3 linked regions of the Homo sapiens genome follow. The protein of the gene in region 2 purifies or fractionates together with the protein of the main gene of each other region. This does not show direct contact. Each region holds a gene or a part of one and is shown on either strand. Other genes may lie near its edges. The genes, in order: PTPRS, PTPRB and VEGFA.

Region 1 (3,650 bases), on a different chromosome or scaffold from region 2:
CAAGGGGAGACATGGGATCTAGCACTTTCCATGCAGTGGGGAAGGGCAGGTTAAGACCCGGGATCTCCGAACTACCTTCAATGGGCTGGAGGATGACACGGGAGTGGTCATAGGCGATGACGTTGGCATAGCGGTTCTTCGGCTTGTTCACTTCCAGGTTGGAATGTTCCCATGTGAACTGCTGTCCAGGGTCGATGGACTACAGAGGAAGGGGAGAGCGCGGGTGTCAGGGTAGGTGCCTGTGAGGCCGAGGTGATGAGGGTGGGAGGCGGGGGTGGGCTCACCTCATACTCCTGGGAGAGCTTGAGGCTGTCGTTGGCCTTGAGCCGCTCCGTGTGCTCCGCCATGTCTGCGATGGGAATTGGCGGGTGGCTAAGCATGCCTACAGGGTGGAGCAGACCCCGCCGGGGTTGGTCACTTGGGGGGCCAGCCGGGGACTCGGGGGAGGGGGGTGATCTACGTGTGAGTCTGCGATGGGTGAGCTGTGGTTAGAAGGGCATGGCCGGGGTGGGGCTTGGCAGGAGGGGAAGACTCAGGGTGGCTCATGAAGGGGCTGGGACCCCAGGCCTAGGGGACTCTAAAGGCAGCAGGTTTGAGGCCCTCTGCTCCGTGCAGAGGCTGACACCCCTGGAGGGGCCTGGATCACAGCATTGGCCCATCCTGTTTCCTTCCAACCAAGCTGGGGGTGCAGGGGCTGGCAGAAGGGTCACCCCAGAGGATGTCAAGCTCCCAGTGCCTCGAGCCAAGAAGCAAGTGTGTGGCACAGAAATTAAATTGCAGACGCAGCCGGCTGTGCTTTGGAAATACTGTCCTTGGGTGGGCGACTGACACCCCTTTCTGTCCCTCTGGGATCAGAGGCACGAAATCCGCTTCCAGGTAGAGGCGACAGACTAGGGAGGGGAAACAGTATGTGTGTGTGTACGTGAGAGGAGTGAGGGGTCCCCATCTGTCCCTGCGCTTGCTTGGGGCAGGAGCAGGTGCAAGAAGGCCCTGGCCTGAGAGCTCTTATCCTTTCAAGCCCCCTAGGATGGCTGCCGAAGGTGCTGGGTGTGGGCTCGGTTCTCCCTTCCCGATATCTGGGTCTGCAGAACCCTGACCTCTCCTGGGACCTGTGTACCGGATGTTCAGCTCTCAGGTGGTTTCCAGACCAGCTGGTAACATTTAATGTTCTGAGACTTCCATGTGTCCCTAGCTGTCCTGGGTGCCCCCCAAGAGCTCACATCTAAGGGGCCTGCCTGTCCTGTGGGCACGTCCTGGGTACATACGTGCCTCACCCACATCCCTGACACACACATACACACCACACACACAGCAGTCACACACAGCCACCTGAGGGCCCAATGGACCAACCCCCTGCCCTCTTCCAGGAGCCAGCACAAGACAGGTGGGCAAAGGCCGGTGATGGGTGGGCGTGTGGACAGAGACAGGAGACACGATGGAGAAACCAAAGAGGAAATGAACGGGGGCGGGGGCGAAAGGAAGCCAAAAACAGACACAAGAACTAACTTTCAAAGTGAAACCCCGGCTCCCTGAGGGGGCTCCTGAGGCCTGAATCTGCAAACAGCAAACAATAAATAAATGAAAACATGCAGGGGGTAGGGGGGGGTCCCACCTCTGCCTCCCCCACCCCTCACTGGCTGGCGGATGCAAAGGGCAGAGCAACGCGGACAACGGGGGGTATGTACAGCCACCTGGGCCCCCACCTGAGGACTCACGATAGCTGCTAACTGTGTACCCCTCTGGCTGGACACCAGTCAATCCTGGTCTTGACCCGTCACTCTGGAAGGACTCCAAAGTGCTAGGTTCTTCTGTCTACAGATCCCCTCCCCCAGACCAGCCTGGCCTTGGGTCCCCTCTGTTGAGGTCAGCAGAGGGCATTCTGAGGAAGGAGGATGCAGGATGGTGAAGGAGAAGCTGGGGGAGCAGGGAAAGGACATATGGGCCCATGCCATGAGCTTCAAGGAGGACAGCAACCATCAGTTAAATGCACATGTTGAAAATCCTTATTTGGATGGAAACACAACAGACATCAGCTAGTCCAGAGACAGAAATGAGATGGGAGCACATTAGCGGTGAATTGTGAGACTCTGCATGATCCCTTCAGGAGACTGCAGCCGTCAGTTACATGCACATTTAAAATTCTCATTTGGCTGAAAAACCAAAGCAACACGAATCAGTACAGAGGAAAGAAAGGGAAGAGAATACACGAGGGGTGATACATGAGGCCCTGCATGATCCCTTTATGAGGACAGCAGCCATCAGTTAAATACTAATGGTCAAACTCCTCATTTGGATGAAAACAGAAGTGACACAAGCCAGTCCAGAGACAAAAAAAAAGAAAGTACATCAGGAATGGCATGTGAGGCTATGCATGAGGCTTTAAGGAGGACTAAAGACATCAGTGAAATACAAATGTTTAAAATCTTCATTTGGTTGGAAAATAGAGTTGATATGAACCAGTTCAGAGATACGAAGTGGAGACCGGGTACAGTTGGAAGGACAGATGTAACTTGGCTGTGAACCCATAAGGAGAATAGCAGCCATCAGTAAAATGAAAAATTCCTTATTTGGTTAGAAGCAGCTGGCATGAGCCCATGAAGAGGGAGGAGATGGTAGAGTTTGTGAATCATACATGAAAATGATCAAGGATAAGGCCTTGATTCAGTTCTCCTGGACTGTCAGGTGACTTTAATCTACAGGGAACTATAAAGAGGCATGAACCCTGGCAGCCATGGTGGGAAGAGGTACAGGGCATTGGGCAGGTATAATTTCTGTACCTTGCTAGGGATATATCCCAAGGGAGTGTGGAAAATGGCTGAGGGCAAACCTCAACTCCCACCACCGAGGAACATTAAAACCAGAGACATAAACAGAAGAATAGCTCTTTCTGCCCAAAGAAATGAGGGGTTTATTTGTGTTTTCTCCATTTTTTAAACATCGTCTTTAGGCTCCTGAAGAGGACAGCAGCCATTGGTTAAATGTTAACTTTAAAAAAAAAAAAGCCTCACTTGGTTGTAAGCAGAACCAACCTATGAGTTCCAAGCCCAGATCCATGTAGGGTTGGAGGTATTTGGGAATCCAGAATGTGGCTGCACCAAGCATAGTTCAGAGGGGGCCAATGAGGGGCCCCCAGGGTGGCAGCTACTGCTTCTCCCCAGCTATCTCCCCTGTTGGTGGCATCCCTGGTACCAGGGATAAGTACATACCTGGAGTCTGGAAGTTAATGCGTCTCATTTCCACAGGGTCCTTGGGGTGGTGAGGGGCGAGGTCGGCATTGTTCAGGAGGCATTTGGTGCGGGGTTCTGAGTCCTTGCGTTTACTTTAGGAGAAGCAAGCGGAACAGTCCAGTTAGTAGTGGCACATGTTCATGTGTGAACACAATTCAGGCCCCAGGAATGCATGGTAAGAAAAGGACCATGGACCCGTATGACTAGGGTTTCCAGGACCAAGTACAGCTACGTGTACAAGCTGTGGGGGCAGCCGGGCATCCCCTCTCCTGTGGGCACACTATCAGCCCATTCCCTGTCCTCTTCCTCTTGCCTGAAGCCTCCACGGGGGAGGGCTGGTTCTTACCTGTCGGGTTTGCTGTTCCCGAAAGCAGACACAGGTGAGAAGGGGGAAAAAAAGAAGAAAGGTGAGGGTGTGCCGGC
Region 2 (3,650 bases):
CCCTGCACATGTACCCCAAAACTAAAAATAAAAATTTAAAAAAAAATACACATTCCCAGGATTCTTTCCCACCATTTTTTCCTCTACAACCACCTCCAAGATTCTGTTTCAGGAAATCTGGATTTGTGCATAATACTTGATATTTATTAATCACCAGAAAATTTTGATCCATAATCCAATATGGAGATCAGCATCCACTGTATTGTTAAGTCTTTTCCTTAGGTGTTGATTTGTGAGGCTTATATTAGTCTTTCCACCATGGTAATCTTTGGACAATTTTTTCTCACTCATTCATTCTGTAAGTTAAAACAAGCATTTAACTAGATGCCATTTGAATGTGTTATGCTTTTCTACAATAAGTGGTATGCTTTGCTACAATAAAAGTTGAGAGTTATAGTTTCTGTTCTTATATCATTTCTGCCTATGAGAAAAAAACCTACTCAAAAATTCAACTTTATCAGAAAATATTCAGCATATAGCACCAATTTGTACAATACCTTTCCTGTGGTTCATCTATCAAGGCCTCTCCTAAATAATATAGAAACATTATAACTGTTCCATTTTTACTGTTTTACACAAGAAGTGAGATTCATCCCCAAACCCCAATCAAACCTTATTTAACATAAGATTACTTAGTTGGAACTTTAAAAAAAAGTAGATATGGACTCAGTGGTGAGTTATTCAAGATAAAAGATAATTCATAGAAAAACTACCTCCTATGACCCTCATACAAATATGTCTAGTAATAGACTTCGAAAATAAGGTAACTAGAATAAGCCATTTGCAATTAACCACTGAACAATGCTATATTCAAAAAATGCCTGATAATATGTGTTGGGGAAAGAAATTAATTTCTAGAAAAAGCAGAAGTTAAAATTTGCACAATTGTGGTACAAAAACACCCTTATATTTGAGTACACATAAGTATAACACATACTTTTGCTTTAACACAATTATAAGCTAACAGATATATTTTTCTGCTCCATCTTAAATATGCCATTGTGGGGTTTTTTCTTTTTGTTTTTGTTTTTTCTTTGGTTTTTGTTTTTAGAAACAAAGTCTTGCTCTGTTGCCCAGGCAGGAGAGCCATGGTGTGATCATAGCTCAATGTAGCCTCCAACTCCTGGGCTCAAGTGATCCTCCCACCTCAGCCTCCCAAAGTACTGGGATTACAGGCATGAATCACCATGCCCAGCCCTGATAAAAGTTTAAGAATAATACTTGTAGACCTATATCATGAGAGCTCACTGACTTGCTAGAGTAGCTACTGTGAAAAATTAACCGAAATGCATTCATATGTTTGCAATGAGTGATTTCAAATCATTGTTTAAGTTGGTAACTAAGTATTATAATCTACAGCAGCACAAATACATGTGTTGTTCATCTATGGGATGTGAATTTTTTTGTGTGTTCTTCCATGAAAGAAAGCAGACCTATGAAGGTAAAAATCTAAGCCACATGTTTCATATTTGTTTCATAAAAGACACATTAATGATTGTATTCAAGTTTCCAGGTAATATTTATTTAACACCTACTATGTGCCAGAGCTTGTGCTAGCACTCAGGTACCCTGTGCTAGTACTAAGGTGCCCTCCACAAGTGATTTTTGACCCAAGCTGCATATTAGACTCACATGGCAGCTTTTAACTAATACTAGAGTATAAAACCTGAGCTTTATCCTCTAAGCTGACTAAATGAGGTATTGTATTTTTAAAGTACTTCCTAGGTGATTCTGATGTGCAGCCAAGGTTGCAAATCATTAAATACATCTTATTCCTTAAAGTAATGGGGAAATCAGATAAGTAAATAAATAGGTAATTACAATAGAATGTAGAGAGAAGAAAGTACTTTCCTTTCCAATATATGTCCTTGCCAGTATGTCACATTAAGCACTCATTCCTTTTTTTTTTTTAATTATACTTTAAGTTCTAGGGTGCATGTGCACAATGTGCAGGTTTGTTACATAGGTATACGTGTGCCATGTTGGTTTGCTGCACTCATCAACTCGTCATTTACACTAGGCATTTCTCCCAGTGCTATCCTTCCCCCAGTCCCCCACCCCCCGACAGGACCCAGTGTGTGATGTCTCCTGCCCTGTGTCCAAGTGTTCTCGTTGTTCAATTTCCACCTATGAGTGGTACACGCGGTGTTTGGTTTTCTGTCCTTGTGATAGTTTGCTGAGAATGATGGTTTCCAGCTTCATCCATGTCCCTGCAAATGACATGAACTCATCATTTTTTATGGCTGCAATAGTATTCCATGGTGTATATGTGCCACATTTTCTTAATCTAGTCTACCATTGATGGACATTTGGGTTGGTTCCAAGTCTTTGCTATTGTGAATAGTGCCACAATAAATATACACGTGCATGTGTCTTTATAGTAGCTTGATTTATAATCCTTTGAGTATATACCCAGTAATGCAATCACTGGGTCAAATGGTATTTCTAGTTCTAGATCCTTGAAGAATCACCACACTGTCTTCCACAGTGGTTGAACTAGTTTACACTCCTACCAACAGTGTAAGTGTTCCAATTTCTCCACATCCTCTCCAGCATCTGTTGTTTCCTGACTTTTTAATGATTGCCATTCTAACTGGCAAGAGATGGTATCTCATTGTGGTTTTGATTTGCATTTCTCTGATGACCAGTGATGATAAGCATTTTTTCATGTGTCTGTTGGCTGCATAAATGTCTTCTTTTTAGAAGTGTCTGTTCATATCCTTTGCCCACTTTTTGATGGGGTTGTTTGTTTTTTTCTTGTAAATTTGTTTAAGTTCTTTGTAGATTCTGGATATTAGCCCTTTGTCATATGGGTAGATTGCAAAAATTTTCTCCCATTCTGTAGGTTGCCTGTTCACTCTGATGGTAGTTTCTTCTGCTGTGCAGAAGCTCTTTAGTTTAATTAGATCCCATTTGTCTATTTTGGCTTTTGTTGCCATTGCTTTTGGTGTTTTAGTCATGAGGTGTTTGCCCATGCCTATGTCCTGAATGGTATTGCCTAGGTTTTCTTCTAGGGTTTTTATGGTTTTAGGTCTAACATTTAAGTCTTTAATCCATCTTGAATTGATTTTTGTATAAGGTGTAAGGAAGGGATCCAGTTTCAGCTTTCTACATATGGCTAGCCAGTTTTCCCAGCTCCATTTATTAAATAGGGAATCCTTTCCCCATTGCTTGTTTTTGTCAGGTTTGTCAAAGATCAGATGGTTGTAGATGTGCGGTATTATTTCTGAGGGCTCTGTTCGGTTCCATTGGTCTATATCTCTGTTTTGGTACCAGTACCATGCTGTTTTGGTTACTGTAGCCTTGTAGTATGGTTTGAAGTCAGGTAGTGTGATGCCTCCAGCTTTGTTCTTTTTGCTTAGGATTGTCTTGGCTATGTGGGCTCTTTTTTGGTTCCATATGAACTTTAAAGTAGTTTTTTCCAATTCTGTGAAGAAAGTCATTGGTAGCTTGATGGGAATGGCATTGAATCTATAAATTACCTTGGGCAGTATGGCCATTTTCACGATATTGATTCTTCCTATCCATGAGCATGGAATGTTCTTCCATGTGTTTGTGTCCTCTTTTATTTCGTTGAGCAGTGGTTTGTAGTTCTCCTTGAAGAGGTCCTTCACATCCCTTGTAAGTTGGATTCCTAGGTATTTTATTCT
Region 3 (3,650 bases), on a different chromosome or scaffold from region 2:
AGGAGTGGGAGGGAGGGCTGTGTATCAGGCCTTGTGCCTTCATTTGCAACTGCGACAGAACCTCTGGGAATCCCGGTGTGGGGGAAGCGGCTACCTTGGGAGCTGGCACGGAACCAAGAGCAACACCAGCCTGCTCAGCACGACCTGGACTGGGAGGCAGGGCTGGGTGTCCTGGAGCCCTGGGCAGGCAGCAGGATGGGGTGGGAGTTAAGGAGGTCTGGGGAGGAGAGGCTTGGGCGGTACTTGGCAGGGAGTTCTCTCCCCAGCCTGTCAAAGCCTGCTACACCATCTCACCAGACACTCTTCCGAGCCCAGGCGAGCCCCCTACTCTCCCCATGGCAGAGCAGTCATTTGGGGAAACAGGAAGGGGGGCAGGCTGTAGCCTGTCCCCTTCAAGAGAACCAGAGCTCTCCATGCCTGCCAAGCCCAAGAGAACACACCTCAGGATGTCTGTCACAGGGAAGAAAGGAGGGGGAGAAGGGACCAGAGAGGGCAAGTCTGTCCCCCTTAGGAGAAAGCACCAAAGGGTGGAAGGAAGGTTTCCGCATCCCCTCGCTCTGGAAGCTGGGAGCTGAGGGAAGAGGCAAGGGGTTGAGGCCTGGTGGGGGCTTCAATGTCCGCACAGCACTGGAGGCAGACAAGATGGTGTGGGGGAAAGGGCAGGGCACAGGTGCTCTCTCTCAGTCTCTCTTTCCCTGCAAGCTCTTGCTGATGCCAGCCGCCCACCCTGTCTTGAAGGGTTACTGCCGCCAGACCTTGTCCCCCACCCCATCCTACCTGCCCCTTAACACGGAGCACTCACAAGCCTCTGAAAATGACCAACATTCAACTTTTTCTCCCTGGCCAAGAGGGCTGTGTGTCTGCCGCCTGCCGCCTACAGGAGGGCATGCACTGAGAAACCACCCTCCAGCCGGCCTCGCATCCAACTGCACCGTCACAGCAGCCACCAAAAGAGGCCATTTCCTCTGACACACAAAAGCTGGCCTCTCTGCCACCCACTCCCTCTCCCCACTGTGGGTGTCCTAGAGCAAGCCAGTGAGCCAGTGTCCACAGTGCCCCCTGACACACCGAAACAGCAAGTCCTGGTCAGGAATGATCTGGAGACCCAGAAGGCATTGTCCCTTCCAAAGGAAGTGCCAGGCTCCTGGCTATGTTTTCTCACTAGCCCTAGAGCCATCATCCTGGAGTTGGCTCCATCCCATTGTTGCTGCCACCACAAGTCCCCCACAAGACCAAGTCCCTGACCCAGGGAGGCTATGGGAGCCCCCAACAGAGGTAGCCAAGAGCCCCAAACCAAGACAACCGGCCATGGAGAGGGAGAAGTGCTAAAGTCAGGGCCACTTACTTTTCTTGTCTTGCTCTATCTTTCTTTGGTCTGCAATGGGTAGGGAGAGAGAAAAGAGCAAAACAGGGAAGGGTTAAGATGGTGATGATAATGATAGGGATAACAACAATAATAATCACAGTAAAAACAGCATTTATTATGGAGCAACACTGTTTTAATCTTTTCATATATAACTTGTTTAATCATTATAACAATGCTATGAAGTATACTACTATTGTGCCCATTTTACAGATGTAGAAACTGAGGCACATTGAAGTAAAATGCCAAAGGTCACATAGCGGGAAGCTGGACGGGGGCCAAAAAGTACAGCATGCTTAACCCTGGCACAGATCAGGCACCCTGCAGCCACTTGCTGATAATGAATCCGTGACTACATCCTCACCTGCATTCACATTTGTTGTGCTGTAGGAAGCTCATCTCTCCTATGTGCTGGCCTTGGTGAGGTTTGATCCGCATAATCTGGAAAGGAAGGAAGCAGATCACAGAGGTTAGTGACCCAGCCAGCCATACCCAGATGGGACAACCCTGGGGCTCCTGCCACTCAGCACCCAGGGGTTCTGCAGAGCAGGGATGGGTGGTGGAGGCAGGGAGGACCAAGAGCTCTAGCAGGAAAGAGGCTCAGGCCCACCCCAACTCCCCCAACCCTGCTGGCCTCAAGGAGCCCTTGTTCCACTTGAGGCCAAGACATGGCTGCAAGGGTTGGCCAGGCTGGGAATTCAAATCCTAGGTTCTTACCACTCCCCATCCCCTCCCCTTCTTTCATCCTCTCTAGGCTTCACCCTGACTCCTAGTAGATACCCGAAAGCAACCCCCTCCCTGTGTTTCACAGCTCCCTCCCACCCTATCTGGGCTGAGATGTGCCCCATTACCAGGTAACACCAAAAGACTTTTTAAACTCTCCATGGACCAGGCTCATCCAGCTTCCCAAACAAAGCCCCCAAGAAGGGGGGGCACTCAGGACTCTCTCCAAGAGAGGGAGAGAGGGGCTCCTGACACAGGCATCCATCTGTCCCCTCCTGAGCCCATGGGCAACCATCAGGGAGAAGGAGATGGTTGGGGCTTGCTGGGAACCTGGGCTGGGAATGAAGCATCTTCTCCACAGAAGGCAAGACCCCACCATACCTCCCCTGTGCAACTCAGGGGCAGGAGCCAGACAAGGCAAATCTAGCCAGGAAACGACCTGGGACCACCTGTTCCCAAAGTGTTACCCCCCTCCCTATCCCCCCCTTGCCCCACTTCCCAAAGATGCCCACCTGCATGGTGATGTTGGACTCCTCAGTGGGCACACACTCCAGGCCCTCGTCATTGCAGCAGCCCCCGCATCGCATCAGGGGCACACAGGATGGCTTGAAGATGTACTCGATCTCATCAGGGTACTCCTGGAAGATGTCCACCAGGGTCTCGATTGGATGGCAGTAGCTGCGCTGATAGACATCCATGAACTTCACCACTGCATGAGAGGCGATGACACATGAGCCCGGTGGGCGACACAAAAGATGGCTAGCCCCTCTCTCCACCCAGCTCTGTAATGCCACTCTTTGGAGCTTCCGAATCAGGCAAGTCCTTCCAAAATCTAACGTAAGTCCCTCCTACTGTGTTTGAAGCACTTCCCTAAGCTTTCCACCATCAACACTGGTGAAGGCCTGTTTTCATTCCAGAGATCACACGATGTACTCAAGTTCCAAGGGACATGGCCTGCCACATCTGATCCCGCCACCTCACTGTGACAGCTGAACTGAATCCTGGGCCAACCTCGATGCCAGAGGACAGTCTGAGTATGGGTATACCCCATGGGGATGCTCTAAGCTTTCCCTAAAAGGAGGAAGAGCCAGCTTTGCCAAGCTAGTCTCCAGTTTCCTACGTCCTCCCCACAACCACTACCATAACGTCAACCATACCAACAGCTGTTTATTGAGCACTTACTACATCCTGAGTACTGTGTACAGTAGTCCACAGCTATCATTTCACACAAGTTTCTCCACATGGTACTATTAGACACTATTGAGATTCCATTTTACAGATGGGGAACAGGAGGCTCAAAGAGGCTAAGTAAGTTGCCCCAAGGCCGCACAGCTAGTAAGTAAAGGAGTCAGAATTAGCTGACATCAAAGTGTTCCCAAGCCTATATTAGGCAAAAACAGAGGAGGCACCTTTCAGGAGGAGGCACCTTTCCCCCTGCCAGTCCTCTTCCCCAGACATGAGCTGAGAAGGTGGTGGGCATCAGCACAGGGGCTGGGCCCTCCTGGAACCCACAGGTGGCAGTGGGCGGACACGCTGTGCCAGCCCTGCCAGCCACTGATAACCC

What was found.
Region 1: the proteins of PTPRB (region 2) and PTPRS purify together in Homo sapiens (affinity purification with mass spectrometry; one large-scale study listed by BioGRID and IntAct). This does not show direct contact.
Region 3: the proteins of PTPRB (region 2) and VEGFA purify together in Homo sapiens (affinity purification with western blotting; one study listed by BioGRID). This does not show direct contact.

Annotation. Positions count from the first base shown.
Region 1 is NC_000019.10:5,215,214-5,218,863, forward strand, and holds part of PTPRS (receptor-type tyrosine-protein phosphatase S isoform 1 precursor), read right to left. Parts: intron 3,586-3,650; coding exon 3,574-3,585; intron 3,320-3,573; coding exon 3,207-3,319; intron 1,555-3,206; coding exon 1,507-1,554; intron 383-1,506; coding exon 285-382; intron 200-284; coding exon 76-199; intron 1-75. UniProt on the Homo sapiens protein: Cell surface receptor that binds to glycosaminoglycans, including chondroitin sulfate proteoglycans and heparan sulfate proteoglycan.
Region 2 is NC_000012.12:70,630,840-70,634,489, reverse strand, and holds part of PTPRB (receptor-type tyrosine-protein phosphatase beta), read left to right. Parts: intron 1-3,650. UniProt on the Homo sapiens protein: Plays an important role in blood vessel remodeling and angiogenesis. Not necessary for the initial formation of blood vessels, but is essential for their maintenance and remodeling. Can induce dephosphorylation of TEK/TIE2, CDH5/VE-cadherin and KDR/VEGFR-2.
Region 3 is NC_000006.12:43,776,614-43,780,263, reverse strand, and holds part of VEGFA (vascular endothelial growth factor A, long form), read right to left. Parts: intron 2,796-3,650; coding exon 2,599-2,795; intron 1,805-2,598; coding exon 1,728-1,804; intron 1,376-1,727; coding exon 1,346-1,375; intron 1-1,345.